Regions from separate parts of the Homo sapiens genome. Here all the other regions are linked to region 6. The links come from fine-mapping of genetic effects on plasma protein levels. A gene starts in region 6. Each other region holds a variant in brackets. All regions are shown on one strand. Distances are from middle to middle. Region 1 has its middle 11 kb from the start of SYDE2. Region 2 holds the start of MIR4423 (microRNA 4423). Region 3 has its middle 4.9 kb from the start of CLCA1. Region 4 has its middle 22 kb from the start of DDAH1. Region 5 overlaps DNAI3 (dynein axonemal intermediate chain 3). Region 6 holds the start of DDAH1 (dimethylarginine dimethylaminohydrolase 1).

The links. PIP is the chance, under the fine-mapping model, that this variant and not a neighbour inherited with it causes the effect. The UK Biobank Pharma Proteomics Project read protein levels with antibody pairs (Olink). The fine-mapping took linkage between variants from a reference panel, not from the people measured, so its PIPs are less certain.
Region 1: its variant is fine-mapped to the plasma level of the DDAH1 protein (UK Biobank, PIP above 0.99).
Region 2: its variant is fine-mapped to the plasma level of the DDAH1 protein (UK Biobank, PIP 0.94).
Region 3: its variant is fine-mapped to the plasma level of the DDAH1 protein (UK Biobank, PIP 0.98).
Region 4: its variant is fine-mapped to the plasma level of the DDAH1 protein (UK Biobank, PIP above 0.99).
Region 5: its variant is fine-mapped to the plasma level of the DDAH1 protein (UK Biobank, PIP above 0.99).

Annotation. Positions count from the first base shown.
Region 1 is chr1:85,209,242-85,214,621 of GRCh38, forward strand. No RefSeq gene overlaps it. Among named protein-coding and RNA genes, the nearest start is that of SYDE2, 11 kb to the left of the region's middle. The variant TTTTAATTTTACTG/T (reference allele first, on the strand shown) is at 2,235.
Region 2 is chr1:85,129,179-85,134,499 of GRCh38, forward strand. DNAI3 (dynein axonemal intermediate chain 3) reads left to right here. Exons shown (of 23, transcript NM_145172.5): 22 at 812-934; 23 at 3,677-3,960. The coding sequence ends at 3,820. MIR4423 (microRNA 4423) reads left to right here and starts at 4,616; the gene lies at 4,616-4,695. The variant T/G (reference allele first, on the strand shown) is at 2,477.
Region 3 is chr1:86,461,328-86,466,707 of GRCh38, forward strand. No RefSeq gene overlaps it. Among named protein-coding and RNA genes, the nearest start is that of CLCA1, 4.9 kb to the right of the region's middle. The variant T/A (reference allele first, on the strand shown) is at 2,776.
Region 4 is chr1:85,484,006-85,489,385 of GRCh38, forward strand. It overlaps a transcript of DDAH1 not described here. Among named protein-coding and RNA genes, the nearest start is that of DDAH1, 22 kb to the left of the region's middle. The variant T/G (reference allele first, on the strand shown) is at 2,211.
Region 5 is chr1:85,115,514-85,120,513 of GRCh38, forward strand. DNAI3 (dynein axonemal intermediate chain 3) reads left to right here. Exons shown (of 23, transcript NM_145172.5): 17 at 2,216-2,346. Among named protein-coding and RNA genes, the nearest start is that of MIR4423, 16 kb to the right of the region's middle. The variant T/C (reference allele first, on the strand shown) is at 2,366.
Region 6 is chr1:85,461,953-85,467,332 of GRCh38, forward strand. DDAH1 (dimethylarginine dimethylaminohydrolase 1) reads right to left here and starts at 3,207. Exons shown (of 6, transcript NM_012137.4): 1 at 2,791-3,207. The coding sequence starts at 3,093. RefSeq lists silencers at 2,616-2,815, 3,056-3,465.

The sequences.
Region 1 (5,380 bases), 250 kb before region 6:
TGAGATTCTGTCTCTATAAAAAATACAAAGAATTAGCTAGAGATAATGGCCTGTGCCTGTAGTCCCAGCTACTCGGGAGGCTGAGGTGGGAGGATCACTTGAGTCCCGGTGGTTGAGGCTGCAGTGAGGCTAGATTGCGCCACTGCACTCCAGCCTGGATGACAGAGCAAGACCCTGTCTCAAAAAAATAAAAAACAAAAAACAACATTACACTAAGTGAAAGAGGCCAGACACAAAAGATCTCATAGTATGATTCCATTTATATGAACTGTCCAGATAGGCACATCCATAGAGGCAGAAAGTAGATTAGTAGCTGCTCGAGGCTGGGGGAAGAAGGAAATAAATGAATGATTTCTAAAGGACATATGTTTTCTTCCTAGCATGATGAAAATGCTCTGGAACTACATTGTGATAATGATTGCACAAACTTGTCAATATACTAGACTTTAACATGGTGAATTTTATAGTATGCAAATTTTATCTCAATTTTTAAAAAGAGGACTCTTTTCTCTCCTTATTTTTATTATTATTATTATTTTTTTTTTGAGATGGAGTCTCGCTCTCTTACCCAAGCTGGAGTGCAGTGGCACAATGTCAGCTCACTGCAACCTCTGCCTCTGGGATTCAAGAAACTCCCCTGCTTCAACCTCTTGCGTAGCTGGGACTACAGGCGCCTGCCACCACGCCCAGCCGATTTTTGTATTTTTCTAGTAGAGACGGGGTTTCGCCACATTGGCCAGGCTGGTCTTGAACTCCCTGCCTTTTTATCATTAGCTATCCTCCCAACTAATATTCATGGAAAATCTTAAAAGAAAACGTTTTATTGGAACTTTTAAGAAAGGATTGGAGATACAAATAGCTTGAAAGCTACTTCATTGGGTAATTGTTGTCAGAAATACTGTCACATTCCCAAATGCTAGTTTTTCAATAAAACCTTTGATTCTATAGAGTTTTCATTCACTACCCTCAGTGGATTGGTTCTAGAATCCCGCTCAGATACCAAAATTCACAGATGCTCAAGTCCCTTATATAAAATGGCATAGCAATTGCATGTAACCTAGGCACATCCTCCTGTCTACTGTAAATCATTTCCAGATTCCTTATAATACCTAATACAATGCCTACATATCATTTCATTCAAGTGGATTCAACACAGTACTCAGTGGATGGCAAAATCAAGTTTTGCTTTTTGGAACTTTGTGGAATTTTTTTTTCAAAATATTTTTAATCTGAGGTTGGTTGAATTCATGGATGCAGAACCCACAGACATGGAAGACCAACTGTCTACTCAACAAATAAATACAAATGGCTTCTTAAAGTTCACTTTTCTCTATCAACTACCAAAGAACTCAAATACAGAACTACAAAATTAAACAAGACTTCTGGCCCCCTCAATCTCTCACTTCCACCAAGAAAACAAAAACATTTTCCAGCATTTAGAAATAACAGCCTACTTTCATTTCCTGCTGGAAAGTCATGGTTCTTTCATGTAAACAAAACCAAAGGACATTACCCTTATAGCAAAAAAACTACCTGGAAAAACCATAATTACACTGAAAAAGATAGGTAAGTAAACATATCTTTAGCCTTTTGTATTCTTTTACTGGATAATTTTCTCTAAGGTAGAGGGTGAGGAGCTATATATTATGTAACATTTTAGAAATAGCAGAAAACCAATTAGGGGGAAGAACACAAACCAAAACTACCCGATAACTTCTTTCCTGATTAAAATTATCTTCCAACAATTCAATTATATGTAAAGAGGGAACCGTGGCTACACACGTATTTATTAACTGTTTCTGGCGGTCCAGAGGAAGCTGGATTATTTTTACCATAACAAAATCAGTTATTTTCAGCCGGGCGCGGTGGCTCAAGCCTGTAATCCCAGCACTTTGGGAGGCCGAGGCAGGCGGATCACGAGGTCAGGAGATGGAGACCATCCTGGCTAACACGGTGAAACCCCGTGTCTTCTAAAAATACAAAAAAATTCTCCGGGCGTGATGGCGGGCGCCTGTAGTCCCAGCTACTCGGGAGAGTGAGGCAGGAGAATGGCGGGAACCCGGGAGGCAGAGCTTGCAGTGAGCCGAGATCGCGCCACTGCACTCCAGCCTGGGCGACAGAGCGAGACTCCGTCTCAAAAATAAATAAATAATAAAAATCAGTTATTTTCCTCCCAGCCTCATTTTCATAAGCGCACATACAACTATTAATGACTCTTTAATTTTACTGTTTAA[TTTTAATTTTACTG/T]TTTAATTTTACTGTTTAATTGAGGTGTTTAGAAACACCTCAATTTTATCTCAGTTGCTGTTTTTTGCGTTTTTTTGTTTTTGTTTTTGTTTTTGTTTTCAGACGGAGTCTGGCTCTGTAGCCCAGGCTGGTGTGCAGTGGCTCAATCTCGGCTCACTGCAAGCTGGTTCACACCATTCTCCTGCCTCAGCCTCCCAAGCAGCTGGGACTACGGGCGCCCGCCACCACGCCCAGCTAATTTTCTGTATTTTTAGTAGAGACAGGGTTTCACCGTGTTAGGCAGGTCTTGACCTCCTGACCTCGTGATCGGCCCGCCTCAGCCTCCCAAAGTGCTGGGGTCACAGGTGTGAGCCACCGCGTCCGGCCCTCAGTTGCTGTTTTAAAGGGTGGTGCATGCATGCAATTATGGCACACACAAGAAAGTGAGACATAGTATATATAAGGCCAGATATGTCCATTCAGTGTAGAAATGATACGTTCCAAGAAACATATTTCAAGTGAATTCTTAGGTCAGGAGTTCAAGACCAGCCTGGCTAACCTGGTGAAACCCCGTCTCTATTAAAAATACAAAAAAATTAGCTGGGCTGGTGGCAGGCACCTGTAATCCCAGCTACTTGGGAGGCTGAGGCAAGAGAATCACTTGAACCCAGGAGGCAGAGTTTGCAGTGAGTCAGAATTGTGCCATTGCACTCCAGCCTGGGTGACAGAGCGAGACTCTGTCTCAAAAAAAAAAAAAAAAAAAAGAAAGTATATTCTTTCAAAACAAGAAAGTTTTTAAAGTAACATGTTTTTAAAAGGTTATCAAAGCAGTGAAAGATTTTGCTTTTTTGTATATTTGAGATAAATACTGATAAATCACATCAGGAATTTAGGATAGTTTCTTTGCTCTGAAGAGTTCTCTCTCCAATTATTCATCACAAGACAAGATAGTAATTGTCAAAGAAATTCTTTTCTGCATTATTATACTTTCCTTGAAGGCTGAGATCATATGTTATTTATTGAATCCATTGGGCCCAGCACTGCACGCCTCTACCTATCTTCTGAAGTCTGGACATCAGTCTCAAGTCACATTCCTGTCACCTTCTCAGCATTTTTACTACACAAGTCATCCAAGAGTTAACAAAGTTATTTCACACACTAACACTGAACCCAAGATGAAGAATAGAACTATCTATTTTGTCATCAGAGTAGACAAAATCACCATCTCTGACTCATTTAAGATGAAGCATAGCCCAGGTACAGTGGCTTATGCCTGTAATCCCAGCACTTTGGGAGGCCAAGGCAGGACAGCTTGAGACCAGGAGTTCAAGACCAGCCTGGGCAACATGGCAAGACTCTGTCTTTACACAACATTAAAAAAAAAAAAATTAGCCGGGCATTGTGGTGTGCACCTGCAGTCCCAGCTACTTGGGAGGCTGCGGCTGGAGGATCACTACTTGAGCCCAGGTGTTCTTGGATGCACTGGCACCACTGCACTCCAGCCTGGGCAACAGAGCAAGACTCTGTCTCAAGGAAAAAAAAAAAGAAAGAAACATGACAATTTTCCAAGAGAAGAGCAGCTTGAAAGCTATGTTTCATTGCATAATCACTGTCAGAAATGCTTTCACATACTATATTCTAGTTTTTTGATAGAGTCCTGAAGTCTACATATTAAACAAATAAATACAGTGGCTTCTTATTTTTTTTTTTTTTTTTTTTTTTTGAGGCGGAGTCTCGCTCTGTCGCCCAGGCTGGAGTGCAGTGGTGCATCTCGGCTCACTGCAAGCTCCGCCTCCCAGGTTCACGCCATTCTCCTGCCTCAGCCTCCCAAGTAGCTGGGACTACAGGCGCCCGCCACCACGCCTGGCTAATTTTTTGTATTTTTAGTAGAGACGGGATTTCACCATGTTAGCCAGGATGGTCTTGATCTCCTGACCTTGTGATCCGCCAGCCTCGGCCTCCCAAAATGCTGGGATTACAGGCGTGAGCCACCGTGCCCTGCCACAAATAAATAAAATACAGTGGCTTCTTAATTAAAAGACAAGAGGAGACTACAGAGTCATCAGCAACACTGTGATGGTCACTGGAGAGGTCAGTACCCTATGGAAGCTCAGTAATTGCTCTGAAAATAAAAACCTAACGTAGAATTCATGCAAAGACAACTTGATTTTACACATCTACAACAGGATTCTAAACTCAGTGCCTACTGGGGCCAGGCAGGTCCTGTCAATGAGTGTTCAAGTCCAAACATAACCAGAGGACTTAGTAAAAAAAAGTACGTTCTCAGCTGAAAGAATGGAGAACTACAAAGAATCATTCCCTCACCCTTTTCCCATGTTCCTTTCTTCCACCCTTTGGCTAAGGAAGTGAGTTTCACATTTTAAAATATACTACATAGGCTAACTCTGGGTGGGTCAACCAAATACATGTGCTAGTTGCTAGTTTTTGACCTCTGATCTTCAGGGAACAACACACAAAAATTTTTTCCAGAAGAAAGGAATGCATAATATCATAATTTTAAATAATTTACCATTAGCCTCATGACTGAAAGGGTTAAGGTCTATGGTAATGATAAAAATTCCCTCTCTTGCCTTATTTTTCATCATTATAATCTCAGTATCAGCAGGAGCCTCATAATTGCACAGAATTTATGAGTAGTAAACTGTTTTTACTTTACCTCTTAGTCTGATTCTCACCAAAAACCTTTGGGAATAAATAAGCAGAACAGAGATGATTGTAACCACATTCAGATGAGATAGCTGAGACCCAGAAGGGACAAGCCATTTAATCACGCTTATTCAGGTTTGAGGATGATGCATCCCTAGTTTTCCAAGCTTCTAGTACAAGTATCCTCATTTGTAAAGCATGTTTAATCTGATGAAAGTGATGCTTTCTTTAAAATCATAGATAGCTTAAAAACATGGAAAAGCAAAGATAAACAAAAAGAAAAATCTCATGTAACCACTCCCACAGTCATAATTATTAAAATGGAATTCAGTTTTCAACTTCACGTGAAGAGTAGTTGCTGGAAACCGTGTTTTTCAATATTTCAACCTCATAAGTAGTACTAAAGTAATATTCTGGTAATACAGAACAATTATCTTAGAGTGTGATATTTTATTGTAAACAGCATTGGTACTTGCTAGTATATTGG
Region 2 (5,321 bases), 330 kb before region 6:
CAACCCAACTTGGAGTATAGCAGGCAGCACAGCTGAACTGGCGGTATTCTGCACCCCCCACACTGTACCCACCACCCAAGTGTTTCAAACAATGTTAATAATGAGGCTTTAAAAAGATCAATGAATAGAAATATATAAATGTATATACAATGAACATTAAACATATAGATTGCAGTCTGCTGCAAGTCCAAACATCAGCCTAGTTACTGGCAGGCAAAAGGCTGTCTCTGCCCTGGTTGCCTTCCCCAAGGTCTCTGCTGACTTTCCTGCTTCTATTCTATGCCTACACTCGAAGCCCTCCAGGGACCAGGAATTCAGCTCTGCTTCCAGTCCCTCTAGGATCTACATTGATACTCTCATCTGGGTTTTCTAAGTTTGATTGATGATATGAAACTTCCCCCAGATTTAGAAGGAAGAAGGAAGAAATGGGGAAAAAGCAACCCCTGAATATTTCTACTACAAAATTGCACATTTTTGCAGCTCTCTCCTTCCAACCCTACTTTGGAAACCTCCAAGTCACAGAGCCCTAAATGTTAGCACAGTAGCCCCTGAATTGTACCAGCTCCTCTGGTAGTGGGCCTGTGAATACAATTTCCAAATTATATTCACCTAAAAGATTTAAAGTATCACAAAATAGATAATCTACATAATGATTAGGTAGATGATCATTAGATAATGATCAAGTAGATTAGGGAGGTAGATTAGGTAGGTCGTCTACCTAATTACAAGCAGCAGAAATTCTAACAGAGCCTTGTAAAGGTCATGGGGGCTTCCTGCCTGTCACCCTCTCATGGACTTCTGTTTCTAACAGATGGCAAGTGTCAACCACTATTTTGAAAGAGAAGTCAAGCATCTGGAATACGTAGAACAGCGCAAAAAAATTCGTGAGCAAGAAAAGAAAGAAATGGAACTAGAAATGGCAAAGAAAAAAGTTGTAAGTTAAATTTCAGAAATGAAAGATGTTTTCCTCGAACACCAGTGGAAATATATTTGTTTGGCTTAATCCACAGTTTCCATAGAAAAGTTATACTTTTTCACATTCTTCTCTTGTTCTCATGAGAGTCAAGAGGGCATTCCTTTGATTTCCTAGCTCACTGCCAGTTAGACACGTAGTGAGATTCTGTCCAATTTAAGTTTCTGAAATTTTCTATAATTTCAAAGTCCTTTAGTACAGATACCTTAATTCAAAATTTGAATGCTTTCATTATAGAATTTTAATATCTGGTGAATAATGCATTAAAGAAGGTGGTGCAAAAAGAGTTGAATATGGAATCAAGACACGTGGGCTCAAATCCCAACTCTGCCACTGACTAGCTGTGAGATTTGGAGCAAGGCTGTCACCTTTGCTGAGCTTCAGGTCTCTTATCTTGAAAATGGGAATACTAATAACTAGGATTACTGTAAGGCTGTCAGTTAAAGAAAGTGACAAATAGACTTTCAGTAAATAGTGCTATTATAATTATAATGATAGATGATAGATTAGATAGATGATAGATAGATAGATAGATAGATAGATAGATAGATAGATAGATAGATAGATAAATAGATATGAGGGGGTAGAGAGAAAGAGGTGAATTTTACTGTATATGATATGCTGAAGATATGAAACTTGAAATAGAGGAGAATTTGGTACAGGGCACATCCATCTTAAACTCTGCCAAAAAAGAACCTAAGCTCTAAAGCACCCCATGCTCCCTTTCTCAGCTTCTCCCTGTTTGATACGAATTCTGTGACTCTGCTGGTCTTCCCTTGCCCACTGGAATTTTGGGCTTCTAAATACTTTGTGAATTAGGCTTTTCTCTCTTTCTCACTTGAGATCACCTCAGTCTCAATTTCTGTTTCCCTCTTGCTCCCTCTCTCCTTTGCTCTTTTGTTACCAGCATTTCATCATTGATCTCATCTGTAGGTTCCGTATAGCCAAATACATACATCCTCAAACACAGTTACTCACATGAGGCCTTCAGTCTCAAAAGCATTAGCATGTGGCACTGGGCGCCGTGGCTCACACCTGTAATCCCAGCACTTTGAGAGGCTGAGGCAGGCAGATCACGAGGTCAGGAGTTCGAGACCAGCTTGACCCACATGGAGAAACCCTGTCTCTACTAAAAATACAAAATAAGCCGGGCATGGTGGCACATACCTGTAATCCCAGCTACTCGGGAGGCTGAGGCAGGAGAATCACTTGAACCTGGGAGGCGGAGGTTATGGTGAGCCGAGATTGTGCCATTGCACTCCATCCTGGGCAACAAGAGCGAAACTCCATCTCAAAAAAAAAAAAAAAAAAATAAAGCATTAGCATGTGGAAATATTGTAATGTGCTGCATTAGCAAATAAATTAACATTATCACTCATTGATAAATACTAATTAGTGCAATAAAAGCAGAGGATCTCATTTCAAAACATGTTTGGTGACAAAGTGTAAAAGAATGCCAATTAATTAAACTTTCATTGCATTCCACTGCTACAAACAAATTGA[T/G]CTTAGTTTTGTTCTTTTGCACTTAACAAATGTTGATTTGTTGAGATTCTATTGTGGGAGAGAATCTGCCACCCTTCCCCTTCCCCAGCAATTATCCACGATTATTATGAGTGTTTAAATACCATAGCAACAGCTCCTAATTATCTACATCAGTGGGAGCGAGTAGAATTGTGGATAATCCAAAAATAATTTGCATGTGAAATACTTTTTAAACACCTGAATATTATAATAATAATATCTTAAATTGTATTATACTTTTCAATTTCCAAAACGTTCCCAACTTCTTGTAACTTTATTTCCATTTGATATGGTGCCCTCTTTTAAGTAAAGCCACCACTTCTCAAATTTTCTCTGCAACTATGAATAGATTGTGGGTATGTGAATGAATTTGAAAGGGTTCCTCTGTTACATTGAGAACATAAAAAAAGTCACTAAGGAAAAACAACTAATGTTAGTCAGAAATGTCTCCTTCTAAGCAACGGCTGATAAAGGGGGAAATGGCAACAGTAACAACCTCAGAAGATTGCAATGGAGCTTAAATGAGTTAAAATATTTACAGCACTTAGCCAATAACTGGCACATAGAAAGTGTTCACATGTTCGTCCAGCAAGGCTGGCCTGTGTGAGTGCTCACCAGGTGCCAGGTTGAGGCTGTACAGTTCAACACAGATTTCAGGAAAATCATGCACCTGTCTCTTTGCAAACATAAAATCTGGAAACAGCTCACTCCTCAATGGACAATAATAATCACTGCTCTAGTTGCATATGAAATGGGAATTTTCCTAACCAGAATTTCAGCTGGAGACTCAGCCTGGGACAGTAGTCATTGCCGTGTGATCCACAAGCTATGCCATCCATATGGACTCAGAAGAGGGGGATTTCAAAAGAATTCTGCAACCTCTAGGCTATTAGTCACCCTCCAGTCTACATAAGGGAAACAAGAGTTATAGGGAAGAAGGCCGGAAAAAGGGACTTTTTTTTGAGAGACAGTGGTTGGGGACCATGTTTCCCCCCACTCCCTCCTTTCCCAGCACATCTGACTGCCTCCTGCCCACCTGCCCTCCTGCCTTCCTGCCCTCCATCCAGCCCTTTCCAGAAAACAGCAGCCAGGTCAACTATTCACAAACAGCCCCTTCTCATCCTTTGGTATTTTTAGATATCAGTGTTTTATAGGGATGTCTTGTTTTTCTTCCCCCCCCAGAAAACATATCAGAAGTCAAAAGAACAAATGCAGGCTGAATTAAAAATGGACTATGAGAGTTATCTGGAACTGGAAAAGACTGTTCTTATCAACCTTGGCCTAATCAAAGTCACAGAGAAGGGGTCATACATGGAGGTGATGTAAAAAAGCTTCCTGAAGGGGTGTTTTGGGGACTTCTTCCCTCTATTTATTTTTATGTCAGGTGAACTGGCATGCTGAACATATATATATATAGGCTCATTTATAGACTTTTATTTCCCTGCTATTAAAACTTTTGAATTTTAGCAATGAGATCTATTTCAGTTTTTGTACCATGTATGTACCAAATTTTGTACTGAATATGAAAGTGTTCTTTTTTAATGAATGTTTTCAATAACAAAATTTGTATTTTCCTATAATAATAGAGAACTTTGGATGTCCCTTCCATCCCAATCCTTGCTGTCCACACAGAGGCCCTCATTCCAGGCAGAAGGGGAAATCAAACTGCTCCTACTTATCAGCTTGCTTTTGGCCACCTTTCCAAAAAAAGTGCTTCCCCTTGGCCACTGTACAAACTGTAGGGCCATGTGCTAAACAAAATATTAGCAAATCAAATCCAGAAATATATATATATATATATTTTAAAGAGGTTAACACATGAAGACAAAGTTGGGTTTATCCAAGGAAGATAAGGTTAATTTAAGAGTAGAAAATAAATCAGTGATTAATCAAAAGAGAGAAATTATGATGCCAAGTCGATGCAGAAAAACATTTCATAAAAGTTGACATCAATTCATGATAATAATGATACATTCTTGGCATCTACAGAAAGAATTCCTGTAATGTGATGAAGGGCGTGTAAAACAATACTACACCAAACATGGTACTTCATGGTGACAAGCAGAAAGCTTTCCCCTGAGATGTGGAACAAGACACAGCTCACACCATCAGGTGCCTGACATCATGTACTGCAGTTGCCTTTTTGTTCCCATGCTGTTTAAGCCTAGCATAGGCACCAAAAAGCAACAACAGTATGTGAAACTGAGACACAAAAGAGCTTGGAGCCAGATTGTGAAGGCTCCTGTTTACCAAGCTAAGGAGCTGGATTAGAATTTATGGGGAATGAATGGAAGGTCTAAACAGGAAGTTGACCCAATCAGCTTTATTTTTAGGAAACAAGGAATGAACTAGAGCAGGGGAGAGTCTCATGGCAAGAAATCCTATTAGGAGGCAGGAGGAATTGTTCAGGGCAAAGGATTAGGATGCCCTGTACTAAAGCTTAATGTGAAGATAGAAATCAAAGGCTGGTTGGATGGGGAAGGGAAGACAAAGGATAATACCAAGGTTTATAAGTTAGATTGCTAGAGGAAAGAAAACTTTGTCGGATAGATTTTAGCTCTTAACCACCTGTGTGCCCTTGAACAGATGACCCAGCTCTGTGAAACAGATTCCCCTTCCATCAAGTCAGGTTGAGAGAACTTAACTTGCAGCATTTATGTAAGGGGCAAATGAGCCCCTGCAGATAAGGGGCCTGTGCCTGGCACATATTATTGTCATCATGATTGAAATATCCCAGGGCTCATCCTTACACTTGAACTTCTTTTATTCTTTCTTTTTTCTGCACTCACTTTCTAGGTGCATGCATCCACTCTCAAGGCTTTAGATA
Region 3 (5,380 bases), 1.0 Mb after region 6:
CCTAGCTCTGTGTAGCAAAAGCAATATAAAAGAACAAACATCTAAAAGGAGTATGTTTTAAATTGGCATGATCTTACTTCACACCAACGTAGGAAAGAAGAAGCAAGAAAATGAAGAAGATAAAAGGTGGAGAGGGGACCGTGGTGAGGGACCCCAGAAGAAGATTGCCATTGTTGAAAGCACAGGCTTTTATAAGAAACCAATGAGGGCTGGATGTCTCATTTGCACAAGGCATGAATTTCTGGTAGCTCCGCTCTGTCCTCCTAGTGTGCATGTGGGCCCTTAGCTTGAGTTACTCCATATTGCTTTTTCCTCTTACTGCACATGTGTTAGTGGACAGAATTTTCCATTGCAGGCATGTCTGGGTAAGTCACCTGTGTAGCCTTTTTTATCTGTGCGGTTGTGGGCATGTCTTAGATAAGCCCCTCTGTGCAGGCTCCCTTATCTATGTCTGCCGGTTGTTCTTTTGTTTGAAAGGATTCAACCAAAGACCCACCCTAACTGCCTGCTTGACTGGTGTCTTCCTTCTCTCTCAAAACACCCCCATTGCCCTCTGAAGCTTGGCTGAAAAGTCAACTCACAAAAGGCAGATTAGTTGGAGAAATGGCATACAAATTTATAATGTGCACATGGAGAGAATCACAGAGTGATTGCCCACCCTCTAACAGAGTTCAGAAGCTTGTCTACCATCCTGGCAAAACAGATTATGAGACAGGGGAAAGAGGAATATAATATATTAGTGTATATATATATGTATATATATATATAATATTTATATTAGTACATATTAATACTACAGGGAAATTAAATTAGAAATCAAAAATAAATCAACTAGAGAATCCCCAAATGTCTGGAAATTAAGCAACATATTTCCACATAACTCATATGTGAAGAAAGAACTCACAATGAAAATTAGAAAACAGTTTGTAATCCCACCACTTTGGGAGGCTGAGGCAGGCAAATCACTTGAGGCAGGTAGTTCAAGACCAGCCTGGCCAACATGGCAAAACCCCATCTCTCCAAAAAATCAAAAATTTATCGGGCGTGGAGGCATGGGCCTGTAATCTCAGCTACTTAGTAGGTTGAGGCACAAGAATCACTTGAAACCCGGAGGTGGAGGTTGAAGTGAGCAGAGATTGTGTCAGCACACTTCAGCCTGGGTGACAAAGCAAGACACTGTCTCAAAAAAAAAAAAAAAAAAAAAAAAGCATATTTATATTCTGTCTGTATACACTCTGAAACTGTTTTTATAAGACTATTTCTTAGTTTCTTAAATTTCCTCCTGACTATTGCTTTAGCTTTGTCATATAAATTTTGATAGGCCATATTTTAATTATCATTTAGTTCCAAATATTTTCTAATTTTCGTGTGTGTGTGTGTGTGTGTGTATTTTGAGACAAGGTCTCACTCTGTCACCCATGCTAGAGTGCAGGTGGTGTGATCTCGGCTCACTGCAACATCCACCTCCCAGTTTCAAGCAATTCTCCTGCCTCAGCCTCCTGAGTAGCTGGGACTACAGGTCTGCACCACCATGTCCAGCTAATTTTAGTATTTTTTTGTAGAGATAGGGTTTCACCATGTTGGCCCGGCAGGTCTTAAACTCTTGACCCCAAGTCATCTGCCTGCCTCAGCCTCCCAAAGTACTGACATTACAGGTGAGAGTCACCACGCCCAGCCTCAGAATATCCTTGATACTGATACTTGGCAAGGACACTACAGGAATGGAAAAGTACACACCAGTCTTATGAACAAATATGCAAAAATCCTAAGCAACATATTAGCAAATTGAAAAGGACACTACATCATGATCAACTAAGATTTACTCTAGGAATGTAAGAGTGATTTAACATTGAAGAATCAATCATTGTAACTCATTACATTATCAGAACAAAGAAGAAAAATTATATACTCATCTTAATAGATATATAAAGAGCATTTGATAAGATTCAACACCTATTCATGATTTAACTACAACAAAAAAACACCTCTCAAAAAACTAGGAATAGAAAAAGACTTTTTTTTGTTGTTTTTTTAAAGACAGGGTCTCAAGGTCTCACTCTGTTCAAAGTGAGAGTGAGAGGCAGGATTGCAGGAGTACAGTGGCTCTCCTGGGCTTAAGCAATCCTCCCACCTCGGCCTCCCAAGTAGCTGGGACTACAGGACATGGCACCACAACTGGCTAACTTTTGTATTTTTTGCAAAGGTGGTATTTCACCATGTTGCCCAGTCTGGTCTCAAACTCAAGCAGTCCTCCTGCCTTGGCCTCTCAAAGTTCTGGGATTGCAGGTGTGAGCTACTGCACCTGGCCCAAAGAGACTTTCTTAATCTGATAAAGGTATCTACAAAATATCTCTAGGTAACAGCATACTTAATGGTAAAATATAGAATTCTTTAGAATGTTTTTCTCCCTGAGATTGGGAACAAGAAAAAAGATATCCATTATTTTCACTATTCAATATTGTACTCAAGGTCCTAGCTAGTCCAATAAGAGAAGGAAACAAAAATATTGGAAAGGAAGAATCAATATGTAATTACTCACAAATGACATAATTATATACATATAAAATCCAGAAGAATCTACAAATACTAGAATTAAGTGAATTAAACAAGTTCACTAAATGTAAGGTCCATACATAAAAATTTATTATATTTTTATATACCAGCAATAAGCAATTAGAAAATGGAATTTTATAAAAATACCATTTACAATAGCACCAAGAAAAACCCCTAAGAATAAACCTAATGAAAGATGCACAAGATCTCTATCCTGAAAAC[T/A]ATAAACCACAGTTGAGAAAAATTAAATAAAACTTAAAATGAAGAGCCATACCATCTCCATGGTTTGAAATACACAATATAATAAAGACGTCAATTTTTCCAAAATTGATCTGTAAACTTAATGCACCCCTATAAAACCCAGATATTTGTATGTGAAATTGACAAGCTGCTTTTAAATTTTATATTGAAATGCACCTAATGTAGCCAAAATAGTCTTGAATAAAAACAAATCTGGACTGTTTACACTACCAGATAATCAAGGTAAGGATAGTCACACAGACCAATGGAACAAGGAACAGAACAGAGAGTTCAGAAGCAGACCTGCACATCTGTAGTCACCTCATGCACAACAAAAGCACAACTGTAATTCAGTAGGGGAAATTATGGTCTTTTCAATAAATACTCTCAACTTACTGGCTATCACAGAGGAAAACAAAACAAAACAAAAACCTTGAACCTTTCCTCACACCATACACAAAAATATTTTGAGATCAATCAGTATACCTAAATGTTAAAGGTCAAGCAGCAAGGCTTCTAGAATCATATATTGTATAATATCTTCATGAATTTGGGAAAGCTGTCTTAAATATGACACAAAAACATTATACATAAAAGATTAAATTGGACTGTACTAAAATTAAAAATCTCTATTCATCTAATGATACTATTAAGGCAAGCTACAAACTAGGAGAAAATATTTTCAATATATCTTTCAATACAAAAGACTCAGTATCCAGAACATATAAAGAACTCCCATAAATCAATAAGAAAAGACAATTTAATTAAAAATTGTGCAAAAAAAAAAACTTGAAGAGATACTTCACAAAAGACCAATATGTATATAAAAAGGTCTTTAACAACATTAGCCATTAGGGAAAATGCAAATCAAAACCACAGAACGATATGACTACACTCCCAAGAAAATGGATAGTTAGAAAGACTGACAGTACAATGTACTGGTGGAAATGTGGAATAACTTGTACAACCACTTGAAAAGTATTTGGGAGATCAACATAATCTAGTATCAAAGAAAAACTTCATGCAAACACTTGTTAAAGATGGTAAGGGGTGGGAGGCATGGTGATAGGTACAAGGACCATTGCAAGGAGGTCTTGCAGTTGGGGAGAGAAAGTAGATTAACTCCAACTCCAATAAGGACAAGTGGGAATTTATAACCAAGGAGAAGGGTGGGGTCAGTGGATGAAAAATGCCTATGAGGAAACATCAAGGATAAGGAATGTCTGGCTAAACTGACTTGATAGGGTTATTGCTGAAGGCAGGCCATGGTGGAAAGATGCTGAGAATGGTCAGATACCAAACGTGGGGATTTTCCCTAAACTGACTTAGCAGGATTCTTGCTCAAACTGGATTCTGCAAGGACAGAGAGGGAAGCCCAAGGTCAGACCTAGTCAGAGAAGACTCAGGATCCTGACTTAAGTTTTGGTCAAAGGAGGGAGTCTTTGTCACTAGATAGATGTATACCCTGTCACCCAGCAATGTCACTCTTTGTATATTTGCAACTGAAATCAATGCTTACATCTATGGCATCTTCATTCATAATAGTCCCAAACTGGAAATAGTCCAAATGTTCATCAAGAGTGGGTGGTAAGTAAATTGCAGTATTTTTTACAGTGGAATGGAATGGAAAAAGAACATATTACTGCTACATTCAACAACTTGGCTGAATCTCATATAGAAAATGTTATGTCACAATAGCGAAATGCAAGAGTACATACAGCATATTTCTGTTTATATGAAGTTCAAAAACAGGCAAAATTAACCTATGTGGCATAGAAGTCAGAATAGCAATTATCTTTTGGGGGGATTTACTGGAAGGGAATGCAAAGGAAACTTCTAGAATGCTGGAAATATTCTTTGGTGAAAGGTTGTCCCTTAGGGTGCTAACTCCCTGCATCTCTGGTTTCTGTTATTTGGCCCATTTGGGCTGCCTCTGACAAAGCCAGATCCCAGTACCATGGTGCAGTGATTTATCTGAGCCAAAAGCCTCCACACATCCATTCAATCCAGACTTGGGAACGGGAGAGAATGGAGGAGCTGCCCCCACAATCTGCACAGTGAAGGCCATGCTAAACTAGGCCCTCTTCCTGGGGAAAGCTAAGAAGAAACACTGGTATTAGGAGATGTGTGAATTTTAGCAGCAGCCAGGACTCTCCACTGAGCAAGCAGCCAAGACCCAGCTTGCAGGGAATGCCAAGCAAATTTGGAGAGCACTTAAACTGAGTCTGTCACACCAGATGACCTCTGTCATAGGGAAATGCAGCAGCTGCAGCCAACAAGGGCAGGACAACTAAAGACCCCACTCAGGGATGAAGGGTGGGATTACCCCAACAAGAGAACAAACAATACAGATCAACCAAAATGCTGAGTAAAAGTGAGGGAAATAGGTGATAAAGGAGGGAGATTATAAAAGCCTTGAGACCAGCTGTAACAGCAGGCATTGCAATTTATTTCAATAACCTTCTTGCCTTATGCACTTGAGCAGATTGCAATTGACCACCACTTTGAAGGAGATTCTGTAAATGATTAAACTTGTACCTTCTCTCAGGGGAAAAGTGAGACAGCTAGTGCTCACACACACAGAAAC
Region 4 (5,380 bases), 22 kb after region 6:
ACCCAGTTTGCAAAGATTTAAAGAATATCAAGAAGTATGTGGGTCATCTAGGTAGAAGTAATATCAATAGAGCTGGCAAAAATGCACTTCTCAGTACATTTTAAAGGTTGCCTCTAGGCCCAAACATTTCTTAATCTCTCTTGGAAGAATACTGGCGGCAAGTGACCAAAAGGCTGTGGTTTCAGAACTTAACTGTAAAACTGCTGAGTTTATTGATACATAGCTGGTTCAGGATAAATTTTATCTATCTACCTATTTATTTATGTTTAATATATAATATATTTATATGTATTATATATTTTTTCAACTTTGTGGTATAATGAATTATGTGTAATGTCTGAGCTCATATCGCATACCACTGAGGGCAAGTAGCAATTTCCATAAAGTGACAGATAAGCGGTTTTAGGGGGAAAAATGCTGCCAAGGATGATTCATTTGAAATCAGCCTTGACAGTTTTCCTGCTGATGAGGCTGATGGAAGGACTAGAACAAAGGTTAAATTCTTTACTTCTAGGAAACTGTGCTCTGTGTTTAAGGCTTGGTCCTCTGAGCTCTGCTAGTCCATCAAGACTAGCATGTGGATACAAGATCTACAGTCAGACTAACCATGTAGAGCTTTTGATAGAAAAAGGAATTTCTCCACAGTTCTACAAACAGTGCAATTGATAATGCATGTCAATTTAATGATGTAAACTGTAAATGTAAATTCCACATTAATCCCTAAAAATAATGGTTTAACAATCATTATCACCATCTCGCTCAGTAACCCTATCACCAGAACCACCAAAATGTAGAAGTTGGCTGATTTGACCTCCTGTATGCCTTTTCAGCCTCTTTCTGGAAACATACAGGCTGAAACATAGCTCTAGAGCAAAAGCAGGTGAGCAATTTAAGGGACACATGTACTCTGAGTCATTGGAAGTTGGCTATTTTGAACATTTCATCAACTGCTTTCACATAATACTAAACCCTTCTTAGTAACTAATACAGGTTACTGTGTGCTATGGATAGCATACCTGAGCTTCAGTAACTTTATTTTTTGATGTTAAACTCACATTACATCAGCATGCTATAGATTCCCATCTTCATCACACTAAAATAATTATTGCCTGTTTAATATCACATAATGCTGTGCGGGTGCCACAGAAAATAAGGATACTCAGGTCCTGCCTTTTGGGACCTAACAATTTTCTACAGATAATGACAATGACAACACAGAGAGACACATAAGTCATATGATAAACAATTGCATGAACTAGGTAAAGCATCATATTAAGAACAAATAAAAGAGTTAGCTTAGGTAGTTTTTTTTTAAATGAGTAAAGAGGCAATTATAGAAGCAAACCACAGGAGAATCACTGGCTTTTAAATGAGCTTAATTAATTATTTAATTAAGACAGTGTTTCCTGGAGGAGGACAAATCCAGAAATTTTGCAGATTTGGTAACTGCAGAATAACTAAAATCCTAGCATGGGAAAAATATTCCAGGACTCCTATCATTTTTATCCCCAAACTTTACAAGAAATGGCATCAGAACTAAAGTCCTGCAAATTTTGTTGGATTTACGTTTTGCCTTCAGCCACATGTCAGTAAGATCAGATGTGCTATTTATATTGTGATTAGTGCCAGGATTTTGCTCAAATGTATACTGAACTCAGGCTTGTGACTATGCTCATTACTATAGAAAATGAGCACTAACACATTATATCAATGGACGCATTTAAACAGCATCCGTAGGACAATTAAAGTCAATGGACTCTGAAAGCAAACTATTATGAAGCCATGTTTATGCAAGCATGTCTAAATAGGTGGGGTTCAAGCATTTATTTTGTCTGTTTTGTTCAGAGTGAAGTGAATTAACAAAAGATGGGCTTATCTCTGAAGTCTGCCTCACTAGTGGCCTATTGATACAACTGAAGCCCACCAAAATCAACCCCTTTAGCTTGGGAAGTGAACTATTTTGGCTAGAAACTGTTAGATTTTTCTGGAAATTTCACACTTTAAAAGAAAATCTTTGAGAAAGACACATGAGAAAGACATCTAACTACAAAGTGGTTGAGTTTGCCCTGCTGTCACTCTTGCTCTCTTGCAAGCAAATGCGTATCTGAGGTTTGAGCTGAAAACTCACTTCTGTGGGGTGATTTTCATAGATATGGAACTTACTATCACAATGCCTAAGAAATGTGGTTTTCAGGAGATAAGGATGAAAA[T/G]CCACTGGATTGCAAGCTGTCATCTATGCTTTAGAATATGAGAAGTAAAATGCTGTTAAACAGAGGAGATCTTCAAAGAGCTACCTTAGTATGGGAATGCTCACCAGAGTTTTCAAACCACAGACACACAAATCTGCAAAAGTGAAAGCCTTCCAAAAAATCAAAAGGCTCAGGGAGAATTGTTCTGACAGAATTCAGCTCTTACAAGTCAATCTGAGGCTGAATTATACTCTTAAAATGCAGAGTTAGAATCCTCCTGCAAGGCACTTTTCCTAAGCCTTGGGTAGGATTTTATTATAGGGTACTACAATGTTCTGTCTTTAAAACTTCAGCTAGACTACATATTTATTCAGTCATTCAGCCATCAAATGCTTACTGGATGCCAGCATTGGAGATGCAAAATGAATATGCTATGGCCCCTGAACTTCTCGAGTCTGATAGAAAGGACAAGCACATAGAGAATCTCAATGGTGTGCAATAAATACAGGGTGATATTAGAAAAGGAACACTCACTTTAATTTGGAAAAGCATCATCAAAAGGAAGAAATAGAAGGGTAGTCCAGGCAATGAAAATGGCATTTAAAAAGGCATGGAGGTAGAGAAAGGAAAGCACTTTGGGGTCATGGCAAAACAGCTCAAAATGAGCAGATGTGGGTAGAGAGATAGGCTGAAGCCTGATGACCAGAGTCTTTGAATATCATATTTTGAATTTTGGATTTTACCCTGAAACTAATAGAGAAGAATTCTTTGATAGATATTAAACAGAAATAAAATGATCAGAACTACAGAAGGACAATGTTCTGGGGCAGTATGATATAGTGTCCGTAAAACAATTGGATGTTTAATTCGCCAAAGTAGGTTGTGAGAAAAGTTACATTTGTGTTCTTGGAAGAGAAATTAACCCTCTTCAAATGGATGACTGGATCCTTTTCTCAGTAGTTGCTCTCCTTGTACTTAGGACTTCCAACCAAGGGAAGTTGAAGGAGAAGGTGTCACTCTCAGGCACCATCTGAGCATTATTGAGAGTACTTGAGAACTTGTGGCTATCACCTTTCAATTGAATACATGTCATGTGGGCACTTCCAGCTCTGCTGGCAGTAGCCAACGCAGATCCAAGAAAAGGGCAGTAACAATAAGAATTGCCTACACTGTCATGGGAGTTATTAAAGAGCTGACTGGGAAAGTTATTTAATACATCTGCTCCTATTCTTTCATCTTGTTCAAATTGTGCCTGCATCAAATGTAAACTTCTGCTTTAGTTATTCTGCTAGTCAGCCATCTTCTTTCAACATAATCAGTATTTTTCTTCTTTGAATATAATCTTATTTTTCCAAATGAAATGTTTTTGTTATTAAATGTTTTTGTTTTATTACTTTAAAAAAGTAAATTTTATTTATTTAATTCCTTGAACTGGTAGCACATTCACATAGTTCAAGCATCAAAAAGTATAAAAAGATATACAGCAATGTCTCCTTTCCTCCCTTATTCTCTATCTGCCTATCTCCAAAAAACAGGTAACCAATATTATCAGTTTCTCATTTACACTTCCCAAGATTTAAAAAACATATATGCAAGCCAGTACAAGTATATTTTCTCTTCTTTTTTTAACTCCCATTGCAGTACACATTGGCACTTTGCAGTACACATTGGCACTCTTTTCTCCCCTACTTAAAAATAAATCTTGGAGGCTAGATGCAGTGGTTTACACCTATGATCCCAGCACTTTGGGAAGCTGAGGCAAGCAGATCACTGGAGGTCAGGAGTTCGAGACCAGCCTGACCAACATGGTGAAACCCCGTCTCTACTAAAAATACAAAAAATTAGCCAGGTGTGGTGGTGCACACCTGTAATCCCAGCTACTCAGGAGGCTGAGGCAGGCAAATCACTTGAACCCAGAGGCAGAGGTTGCAGTGAGCTGAGATCGCACCACTGGACTCCAGCCTGGGTGACAGAACAAGACTCTGTCTCAAAATAATAATAATAATAAATATTGGAGATTGTATTAGTCAGCTCAGACTGCCATAACAAAATACTATAGATTGGGTGGCTTAAACAATGGAAATTAATTTTCTTACAGTTCTGGAGGCTGAAAGTCCAAGATCAGGGCACCAGCATGGTCAGATTCTGGTGAGGGCTCTCTTCCTGGTTTTCAGATGGCTTTCTTCTCACTATGTCCTAACATGCAGATAGAGAACCAGCAAGCTTTCTGGCATCTAATCTTATAAAGGCACTAATCACATCATGAGAGTCCCACCCTCATAACCTCATCTAACCCCAGTTACATCCCAAAGGCCTCATCTCCAAATATCATCATCATATTGAGGGTTAGGACTTAAACACATGAGTTTTGAGGGAGACATGAACATTCATTTCTTAATAGAGATCTTTCCATATAGACATATAAAGAGCTTCCCTATTCTTTTTTACAGTTGCACAGTATACTACTGTGGCATCAAATACCCTTAATGTCAAAACTGGGAAAACTGAAGCTGTCCTTAATCATTTTTTTGCTAATAGGATCTGCAGAAACAAAGTTAGAGAGCTAGAGTCCTAGAGACTGAAAGGTGATGTTTCTGATGAGGTTAGACATAAACTGGAATTATATTCTGATGACTGGTGAAAAAGTATTAAAAGTCAGGCAACATGTTCAGTGTATATTCATTAGCATGTCATTAGATCCTCAAAATTTCAGCATTCTGAATCAAATACGGTTGAATTTTCTAATATGAAGATGGTGACTGCATTTGAAAATGCAAATTAATAGACATACGCTATGAAATGTATTTTTGTCATGTCACTACTTATAAACAATAGTCAACTTGCACCCAGCTGTTACTTACCAGGCATGTTATACAGGCCATTCTAGCCATTCTAAACATGTTTAGTGGAAGTTCTGAGAAAATGTTAGCACAGAAGATTTAGTGGTCTTTGTGAATAAAGTTAAAATGGTTATTCAGACCAGAAAAGGGAAAGAACTAAGGAACAAAGAAGGGAAAAACAGTATGACCACAAAATACGTTTGGATAACCCTACTGAAAGCAAAAATAATAGGGTGTGTGCTATTCCAGCAGCCTGAACTATCACTACCTGAAGGAAGAGAAGGCAGAGACAGAGTAAATGTCTGTAAAATATGGCTGAAATTAGATTCAGGGATAAGGAGGGAAAAATCA
Region 5 (5,000 bases), 350 kb before region 6:
GGAAATCCATGACCTATGAGGATGATTTTGAATCTAAGTATCCAAAGTTATTCCCGTCAACTCTGAATAAACATAGTTAATAACGTTTTTCCCTAGCCTCACCTTCTTTGACTCTATCATAGCCTTCCCCAACCTTTTTTGCACCAGGGACCAGTTTTGTGGAAGATAATTTCTCCACTGGGTGGCAGGGGGAGGTGGGGGCAGGGGGGCAGGCATTAGATTCCCATAAGGAGCGTGCAACCTAGATCCCTTGAATGTCCAGTTCACAATAGTGTTCACGCTTCTGTGAGAATGTAATGCTGCTGCTGTCTGACAGGACATACTGCTCAGGCAGTAATGCTCTTTCGCCCACCTGCTGCTTGTCTCCTGCTGTGCTGACCAGTTCCTACCAGGCCACGAACCAGTATCTGTGGCCCAGGGGCTGCAGACCCCTGCTCTACCACATTAAATGCTATTAACTCAGCCTATTTTCTTGGAGCGCACACTTCTCTTAGCATCTGTGATTTTCCTATCCTGCTACTTCTTCCGTTATTCCTCCTCTATCTCCTTTCCTGGCTCCATTTCACCTTGCTGCCATCTACTCATGAATGTACCTTGAACTTTAGCTTCAGCTGTGTACTTTCCTCATTGGTAACACAGTCTACCTGCATGGCTCTAACTTTTATCTCTGCTGAGAATTCTCCATCTGACTCTTGCTGTCTCCTGGGTTTAAACCCAATCTACCCTATCCAAGTCAATGTGTCCAGAACAGGATTGATAACTTGAGTCATTCCTGATTCTCTCTTCAGGCCTCCACTTCCAGTCTCTCACTCAAGTTAATCATGTTTTCCTTTACATTTATCGCACCTTTGCCTCTTCCTTTTCATTATCAGTTGTAACCCTATAGATCAGGGTCTTGTCTCCCCTTGTGAGACCAGAAGTCTCCACACTTTTAATCTTATAGCCCCTTGTTTAACATTTCTGAGTTCAGATTCTCAATGTATGTATATGTATTTACAAATTATATACATATTCTACTTCTCTAATATATTTGTGTACATGATTTAAAAAGAGAGGAACAGACATTGAAATGTGAGTGAAGAATTTGAAATAAATATTTTAATGATTTTAATTGTATACATTAAATGGGTACAAAATGCCTTTTTGCTCTTCCTACATGTATTATAAATAATATCTTTTAATGAGAATAATGTGATTGAATATGCCCAGTCATGTTTGAAATGTTGGTTTACACTTTGTAATACAGCTATTTAAAGATCTAGTTCGATGTTTGGTTCATTTTGATACTCGTTTTTGATGTCTTACTTAGTGGGAAAAGATACGTCTCAAAACATGTAGATCCAAAACAAAGAGAGTATTGGTTGACTATACCAACTAAATCATGATAATCATTTTTAAGTTTTGTCCAGAATTATGCTAAAGTTTTTTTTAAATGTAATATGTCTTTTTAGTATAGCTGAAGTTTTATTCTCCTGTTTTAGTTTTCACTTGTCTGTTTGTTGGTTGGTTTTATGGCTTTTTGTTTCCTCTTGGGTAATATGACTCAGAGGACATATTGAGGAAGTGTGGTAGAGGAGGGTTTTATGAGCATATATTTCTCTACCATCTTTCCCAGGAATTGAATATCATATTTTCAAAAATCTAGTAAGTTACCTGGAAAAATGTTTAGGACATAGCTTTAAGAGAATAGAAAAGCAGCATATAAAACTAAAATAGGATATTATCCAGTTTTTTAAAAAAAAGTGAATTTACAAGAAAAGTCACAATATTTTAATATTATCTCTGGGAGACATGATAATGGATGATTTTCGTTCTTTTACTCATGCTTTTCTTTATTCTCCAAGGCTTAAATAAATAACATTTATTAATTTTAGATTACAAAAAGACTTTTAAAACAAGGTGACATCAAATACTTTTAAAAAGAAACAGGTTGCCGATGATGTTTGTGTTTCAGCCCCCGAATTACCTATGCTCTTACACTATGTGCAGGTATAGCTAGAGCTATAATATAGCACAGTCATTGATGTTTGGTTTGGAACAAAAGAGGGTTCTTTTGCTAAATTAGAAATCTAAAAATGCTTGGACTTATGCTCACTACATTGGGAAGGGAATGGGGCAAATGCAGGTGGCAAGGGGCAGAAAATGTAAACTGTCTATATTTTAAAAGATGTTTCCCTGTAAATATGTACTTCTTCTACCCACACTCCTCTGAAAGACAAAATGTTAGCACAGAGCAAAACAGAGAAGGCAGAAGAAATGAACCCGTATCATAATCTGGAAAGTGGGATGGCCAATCTTCTCAAGCCAATAGATGACTTCTGCACAAAGTTCTTTGTGGGAACAGAGGTAAATTGGGATTATCTGC[T/C]TTTAAAATTAATACTTATTTATACTAAAATATGTTATTACAATATCTACTGTACATTTTTGCTGTGTAAAGACATAAAAGTTATACCATTTTCATATTTTAGTATGCTTGTTTGCATTAAACATTTTTAACTCTGATACCTCATAGTTTCACCTTTAAAATGTTCCTGAACGTATGTGGACAAATCTGTAAAATTGCATACTTTTTAACTAATAATATATTGTTCAATCTACAAATATTCATCAAATACCTTTATCATTTGGAAGAAACCATACTAAGTGTTAGAGATTTACTAAGAAACTATAGTGTTTTGTTGGGCTAACACAATCTAGTAGAAGAGACAGAAAAAACTCACTCATTTCAAAAGATAAATAACAATTGGATATAATAATGATAATGGCTGCCATTTTCTAAGGACATACTGTAATAATAACCAAAGCGAGTTCACATTTACTGGACATTTTCTATGTATCAGTGTCTGTGCCAAGTTATTTTCCAAATTATATCCCATTTAATCCCAGTAATCCTGTAAGGTTGGTATTATTATTGCCATTTTATAAATGAAGAAATGAGGCTCAGAACTTTATCTACAGTCATACAGAGGCAGAGATGCTCTTTTCACTCATGACTCTCATTCCCTGAAATACAGAGTATTTTTCCCAGGCCAAGTCACCATGAGAAGAGGCCATAGCTCAGTCTCACCAGAATGCAATCTTCATCCACACTTTGGTATGAAGAGGAAAGCAATCAATTCCACAAGCTCTGGAGAACATGACTGTGTCTCAGGCACAGCACTGGGTGCTGGGATCAGAAGTGAATAGCATGGTCCCTCTCTCCTCAAGGCACTTTCTGCCTAGTCGAGGAGCAGACACATGATAAACACCAACACCAGTCCAGAGGCCATTCCGATAGGAAGAAGGAGGTTGGGGAAGGTGACCCACAGGCTGCTTGGATGTTGGAGGTTGAGAAGGAATCTCAAAGGTCAGGTTGAGAGTAGAATTCCAAGCAGAAGTAACAGCCTGAACAATATTTGGAGTTATGAAAGCCCAGTATTTGTCTGGAGTTAGTGAAATAGTTTGGTGTAAGAGGGAAAGGTATGTCTAGAATGCCTGGTTGGAATCCAATACTGAAGAGCCTTTCCTGCTGTGTTAGGTAATTTGAGTTTCATTTAGTAAGCAATGCAACACTACCAAATAAATATGTGCTTTATAACTTGGGTTTCACAGCAAAGTTTAAAAAATTTTTTTAATTGTGGTAAAATATATGTAACATAAAATTAATCATCTTAGCCATTTTTAAATGTACAATTCAGTGGTATTAAGAAACTCCTTTCCCAAAGGAGTTCAATAATCTGTTGGAAAAGTACATTCATATTGTACAACCATCACCACCATCCATGTCCAGAACTTTTCCTCATCCCAAACTGGGCGTCTGTACGCACTAAACACTAACTCCCTCTTCCTTTCTTTCCCTACCCACTTGTAACCACCATCTACTTTCTGTATCTACGAATGTGACTATTCTAGATACCTCACGTAAGTGGAATTATACAATATTTGTCCTTTTGTGCACCAAAGTTTATAAAGCAGGGGAATGACACCATCAGACCAGATTTAGAAAAATCAGTGACTGCAAGATCTTAAAGCAGAAATTAAAGCATGACACCCCCTGCTCAAACTCTTCAGTGACAACTCAGTACAACATGAATAAAATCCAGACTCTTCACACCATGGCCTATAAGATTCGTCCCCTGCCTATCTCTCTGCCTTATCTGCACCAACCTCCCTCTCACTCTGGCAGCTCTGTTTTTTCCTTTTTTCTTTTTTCTTTTTTTTTTGAGATGGAATCTCATTCTGTCACCCAGGCTGGAGTGTAGTGGCACGATCTCGGCTTATTGCAACCTCCACCTCCCAGGTTCAAGCAATTCCCCTGCCTCAGCCTCCTGAGTAGCTGGAATTACAGGCGTGTGCCACCATGCCCAGCTAATTTTTTTGTATTTTTAGTAAAGACAGTGTTTCACCATGTTAGCCAGGCTGGTCTTGAACTCCTGACCTCAGGTGATCCGCTCGCCTTGGACTCCCAAAGTGCTGGGATTACAGGCGTGAGCCACTGTGCCCGGCCTTTTTTCTCATCCTCCTAATACAAACTCTTGCCTGCCTTTGGAGGCCTTGCCCTACTTGGAATTTCTTTACTCATCCCTCAACAGATACTCACTGCACATTTAATATATGCCAGGCATTGCTCTTGGCCCTGTAGATATAGCACTGAACAAACAGACAAAATTCCCTGGCCTCATGGTGTTGGCAGTCCATTGGAAGGTTCTACCAACTTGTGACACAGCTGATCCATCTACTTTGGATAGAGATGTTCAGGGAGGCATCACTGGGATCTCGACTGGCTGGCGTGGGCTGAGGGAAGGGAGTGGAACCCTGGAGGGAGAGAAGACAGGCAGGCGGTGATTTCAGGTGGGCCAGCCCAGAAATGAAAAGGGCCTGAGCAGTGGGGCCAAGAATGTCAACACAGGGGTCAGAGAAGTGGAGTTGGGTAACAGAATTACAGAAGTGGCTAGAGAAGGGTATAGAGGTTTCCAGCTAGGTGACTGATGATACGATGAGCCTTCAACACACATTTATTA
Region 6 (5,380 bases):
TATAACCCTGGCCAATTTATTTAATCTCTCCAGGCCTCAGTTTCACCAACTTTAAAATAGGAATTATGATAGTATTGAGTTCAAAGAGTTGATGTGAGTATTAATGAAATGCACATCATAAATCTGGTATGGTGTATGGCAAGTGGCAAGTACCCAATAAATATTAGCTAATAATAGTGATAACAGTAAGCTGAGAACTTAAGACAGATAAAAGGGAAGAGAGGAAAGAGGAAGAGTACCCGGACAAAATAAAAGCAATAGTCTGGTGAGCTTCAGTGAAAGAACCTCGCTCGATCCATGGATCAGGGGATGCTTGGGGTGGGATCAGAGGTGAAGCTGAAGCTGGAAAGGCAAGCACAGCCCAGCTCAATGGGTTTATCTAAGCTCAGTGGGGGCCCCTTGAGAATTTTAGTCAGAGAAGGGACAGGATCAGATCTGAGTTTTTAAAAGACCAGCTTGGCTACAGTGTGGGAATGGAATGGAAAATTGACAAGACTAGAGGCAGAGATCAGTGACAATAATTTTAAAATAATTCCTTGGCTACTGTGGATTTTCACAGTTGGGAATGCAGACATCACATGAAAAAAATATACAGCAATCCATAGAGGGTCTTGAAGTAACTATCTTCTTGTATTAGCATTTCATTCATCATTCATTCATTCATCCACTCACTCAACAAGCATTAACACCTACCAAGGCGGTGAGCTGGTGCCGTGAGAGATTTCTACAAGCATTGCCCTACATGACTCTGCCCTCCAGAAGCATCCCATCCAACACTGACTGCCCATATTCCTCTCCCTGCCTGGGAGGCCTGTTACCCTGGTGACCCAGATCATGTGCAATGCAAAGGCAGGCACCAGCAGGAGACCCAAACCCAGAGGCAGTATCACATAGTAGAGAGATGTCACTAACTACATCAGTGTATAGCTGACTTCTTATTAACGGAGTAAATCTTCCCTGATCCATAGTTAAGTGAATAATAATAGTCAACATTCATCAAATGTCCTGTCCTGTGAATTTCAGGTAGATTAATACATCTATTACAACAACTTTGTGAAACAGGTATTATTATGTCCACTGTATAGATGCGAAAACTGAGGCAAGAGACACTCCCTAAAGGTCACAGAATTAGAAAGTGGTAGAGCTGAGATTCAGTCTAATGTTTTTATCCACTACACCATGTGACTTCTGGCAGTGGGCCACCAGGCTGATATCAGAATTAAACCAATTTAAAATGTATGCTTCAAAATCTAGGCAGGGGAAAAAGATCACTGCTCACTTAGGTATCAGGGAGGCCAAAGCTTGGAAGCTTTTATTATAGGAATAAAATGAAATGGGTGAATAAATATGGTGACAGTCTCTTGAGAAGAAATTGGACTACTCTCATCAAAAGAGTGCCATTTTGAAAGGGTTTTGAAATCGATTTTGCTCTTTTAAGTTCAAACCATAGCTCTGCCATTTGGCCTAGAACGCATTAGAAAGTATTCAAATGGGATTACATTCCTTATCAGTTTAAAAGAGTGGGACATCTCACAGACTCAAAGATGGAGAGGTGTGGCAAAGACATCAAAGGGCTAGCAGAGATCTGTTACTCTTTTGGTTTTCTGTTAATGGAGGGTGAAATAAAAGCTGATTATCTCGATGAGAAATTAGTAGAATATGCTTATTTTCTCAGACCATGTGGCATTCCATCAACCAAGTAGTGGAGCAGGTGAGGAATAAGCATATTTTATCATAAGCTCTATGAGGCATTTCCAATGTGAAGTGAATACAGACAAAATAGAAAAAAAATTCTTAAATCTCCAGAAATGAAAGAAACCACTAGCTTCTTGCAATGCCACTGGATGCCAATAGCAACGGAGTCTTGAGCCTGGGCTCTTAACTGGCAATGAGAAGAATCCCAGGCCAGATGGCATTTTAAAATCCAATCTCACTCTATTTGTCTCTCCCCACTAACCTACATTGCACTTAAAGCAATCAGCCATTTCACAAGCTGCAGTATTTCAAAGTAGTTACAACCCTTGAGAACAGAAAAACTCTCTTAATTGCTGTGAGTTTAAAAATATAGAGAATAAAAATTATGGAATTTGTGAAACAACCATCTCTAATTAAACACGCTCGCTAGCACACACACCCAACACCGCACAGAGTACAGCTTTTCAAACCTAGCCCATTCATGCACACATTTAGCACAGCTCACCAACAAAACACTTTTCCTTCCATTCATTCACTTACTAGTCCCGTTCTTTGGGACTCACTCGCCACCACTGAAAACTAACTTGAGAAGCCCCAGGTCTGTGGGCACCGACACCCCGTTAATTCATCCAGCTTGTCCTGCTCCGAGCGCCAGGCAGGACTTGGGGGCTTCGGTGTCACGACTGGCGCTGCCCCCTGGAGGGACGCCCAGCCTCCACCCGCCCTACCGGAGCGGCACCCCTCGCGGCCCTCGCTCCCTGGGAAACACTCAGAGTTGCACTGTCGTCGCTGCCGTTTAATTTTCACAAATAAAAATGCCCGTGAGACGGAATCCCCCGCCCACCCACCTGCCCGAGACCGTACAACCACATTGAATCGGATCCTCCAGAAGGCTGCCGGCAGCCGGGAGGTGTGAACAATGAACTTCTCTCTGACTCTCTGACACACACACACACACACACACTCGCCCCCCGACGGGAAGTTGTGAACTACTAGCCCGAGGGCCAATGGCGCGACTCCCCAGGCAACACGGCGGCCGGCGGCGGGGGAGGGCCTGGCGCGCGCCCCGGCCGCGCCCCTCGAGTCGGCAGTTACCTCCTTCCTCCGGCTCGGCGCCCCGGGTCGGGTGATGAGGGCCGTCTCCTCGCACACCACGGCCACGTCCTCCACGAAGACGCAGTCCGGAAGGCTCTCGTCGGCCGGCAGCTCCACCACCTGCAGCCCCAGCTTGCTGCCCAGCACGCCCACGTAGAGCTGGTGCTGCCGTTCCGCGCGGGCGACGTCCACCTCCTCGCCCTTGGCGCTTCTCAGCGCGTGCTGGCCGAGCGACTCGGGTAGCGCCCGCACCACGGCGTGGGTGGCCCGGCCGAAGGCGGCGGGGTGGCCGAGCCCGGCCATGGCTTCGGGAGGCTTAGGGGCGGCGGCGGCGGCGGAGGCGGCCGGGTCCTGCCGCGGGCAGCGCGCGCTGAGCCTGCGAGCGCCCGTCGGCTCCTCTTGGCAGCCGCTGAATGTGGTGCAGAAGGAGCCCAGCTCGCGCCCGGAGCCCTGCCCGCGCGACTGAGCATGCCCAGAGCTCCGGGCGCCGGCCCGCGCGCATCCCGCGCGCCCACTCCGGCGCTCGCGGGTCTCGCGCCAGCCCAGGCGGGAGTTGTAGCGGCGAGCGCCGGGCGAGGAGTGGGGCCAGGAGAGGCGGCCGGGGAAGCAGCGAGGGCAAGAAGTATGCGGAGGCGGGGGACCTCGGCGAAAAGCCACCGCTACCCGGACCTGGCGGTACCTGTGTTCTGTCGCAGGTGCACACCTCCCATCGTCCCCAGCGCGGACTTGGAGAGCCGGCCTCGGTCTGGACAGAGCAGCTGGAGGGCTTCCTGGTCTTTACCTGAACAGTTTAAACCTTGCGTGCTTACAAAGTCTAGCCCACTTTTGAAGAGCTATAATGGTTTACAGATTCTTCATGTTGAGCTTAAATCCCACGGGTCCCAGTTCTGTTTTCTGGCCTTACCTAAAGTACAAGTTTTTCTTGTTTTGTGTGTGTTCGCGTGTGTGTGTGTTTTCACAAAACAGCATTTGCATATCTGAAAACAGTTCTAATTATCTATGCTGCCTAACACCATCCTCTACCCCCCACCCTAAACCCCCTCCAGTCCTGGAGCCCAAACCACTGAAAAGTAACTAGTGATTTGGTTTCCAAGTCCCTTCAACATTCTGGTCAGCTTCCTTTTGATACACACCAATTTGCTTGTATCCTTTTAAAATCATAGTATCCGGAAAATAAACAATTCTTCCTGTGTGGTCTGACCAGCACAGACTACAGCAGCACCCTTGTTCCAGATGCTGGGCCTCTATGAACACTGCCTAAGCCTGTATTCACTTTTTTGGTGGTCTAGGGCCAAGGCCCAGGCTACAGCCTTCTTGCCAGAACTCTGATCCCAGCTTTTAGGAAACTCTGGATTTCTAGGAGCAGGTCTCTCTGAGCATCCTAGAATGGTTGCCCCAACTGAGCCCAGAGATGTGATCTGCCTTCTCTCCCCTCCCACAAGGGTGGTGTGAATTTATAAATGAGCTTCAAAATTCTCAGCTTCACATTTGAGGAGTTTTTTTTGTTTTTTGTTGTTGTTTTGTTTTGACGGAGTTTCACTCTTGTTGCCCAGGCTGGAGTGCAGTGGCACGATCTCGGCTTACTTCAACTGCTGCCTCCCCAGTTCAAGCAATTCTCCTGCCTCAGCCTCCTGAGTAGCTGGGACTACAGGTGCACGCCACCACTCGCGGCTAATTTGTATTTTTAGCAGAGACAGGGTTTCACCATGTTGGCTAGGCTGGTCTCGAACTCCTGACCTCAGGTGATCCACCCGCCTCCACCTCCCAAAGTGCTGGGATTACAGGCATGAGCTACCACGCCCTGCCCAAATTTGAGGAGTCTCAAGGACAGCTCTGACACTGACATTGGGAAGTGGGACCAAAAGTAAAATAACAAACCTTTAAGACCGACTAGGTAGTACTTCTAAAGCAAAATTCTTAGGGGATCCAGGCAGCCCCATTAGCCCCAGTTTAGCGTCAGAAATCACTTAATGGTGTCCTCAGATGGAGGATTTCCATCAAAGTTACAGGTGAAAGTTGATCTTTTACCTTAAGCTTGCCCTGGTTAAATATAAAATTTATTTATTTTTAAATTAGTTCATTATTTATTCTTTTTTTTTTTTTTTTTTTTTTGAGATGGAGTTTCGCTCTTGTTTCCCAGGCTGGAGTGCAATGGCGCGATCTCAGCTCACTGCAACCTCTGCAACCGGGGTTCAAGTGATTCTCCTGCCTCGGCCTCCCGAGTAGCTGGGATTATAGGCATGTGCCACCACGCCTGGCTAATTTTGTATTTTTAGTAGAGACGGAGTTTCTCCATGTTGGTCAGGCTAGTCTCAAACTCCTCAACTGAGGTGATCCGCCTGCCTCGGCCTCCCAACGTGCTGGGATTACAGGCGTGAGCCACTGCACCCAGCCTATTTATTCTTATTATATATTGTTTATTTGTTTAGCTCCCGGGTTAAATAAAGTATAGGACTTCATTCTGCTCTTTACTGCAGACTTTACCAGACATTGAGGCTCCATCTGTCTCTAGCTGGCCACCATCTAGCAATCTTCATTCATGCCTGTGCCTTGTTGGAGCCTGAATATTTCACCTACCACTCAGTGCCCT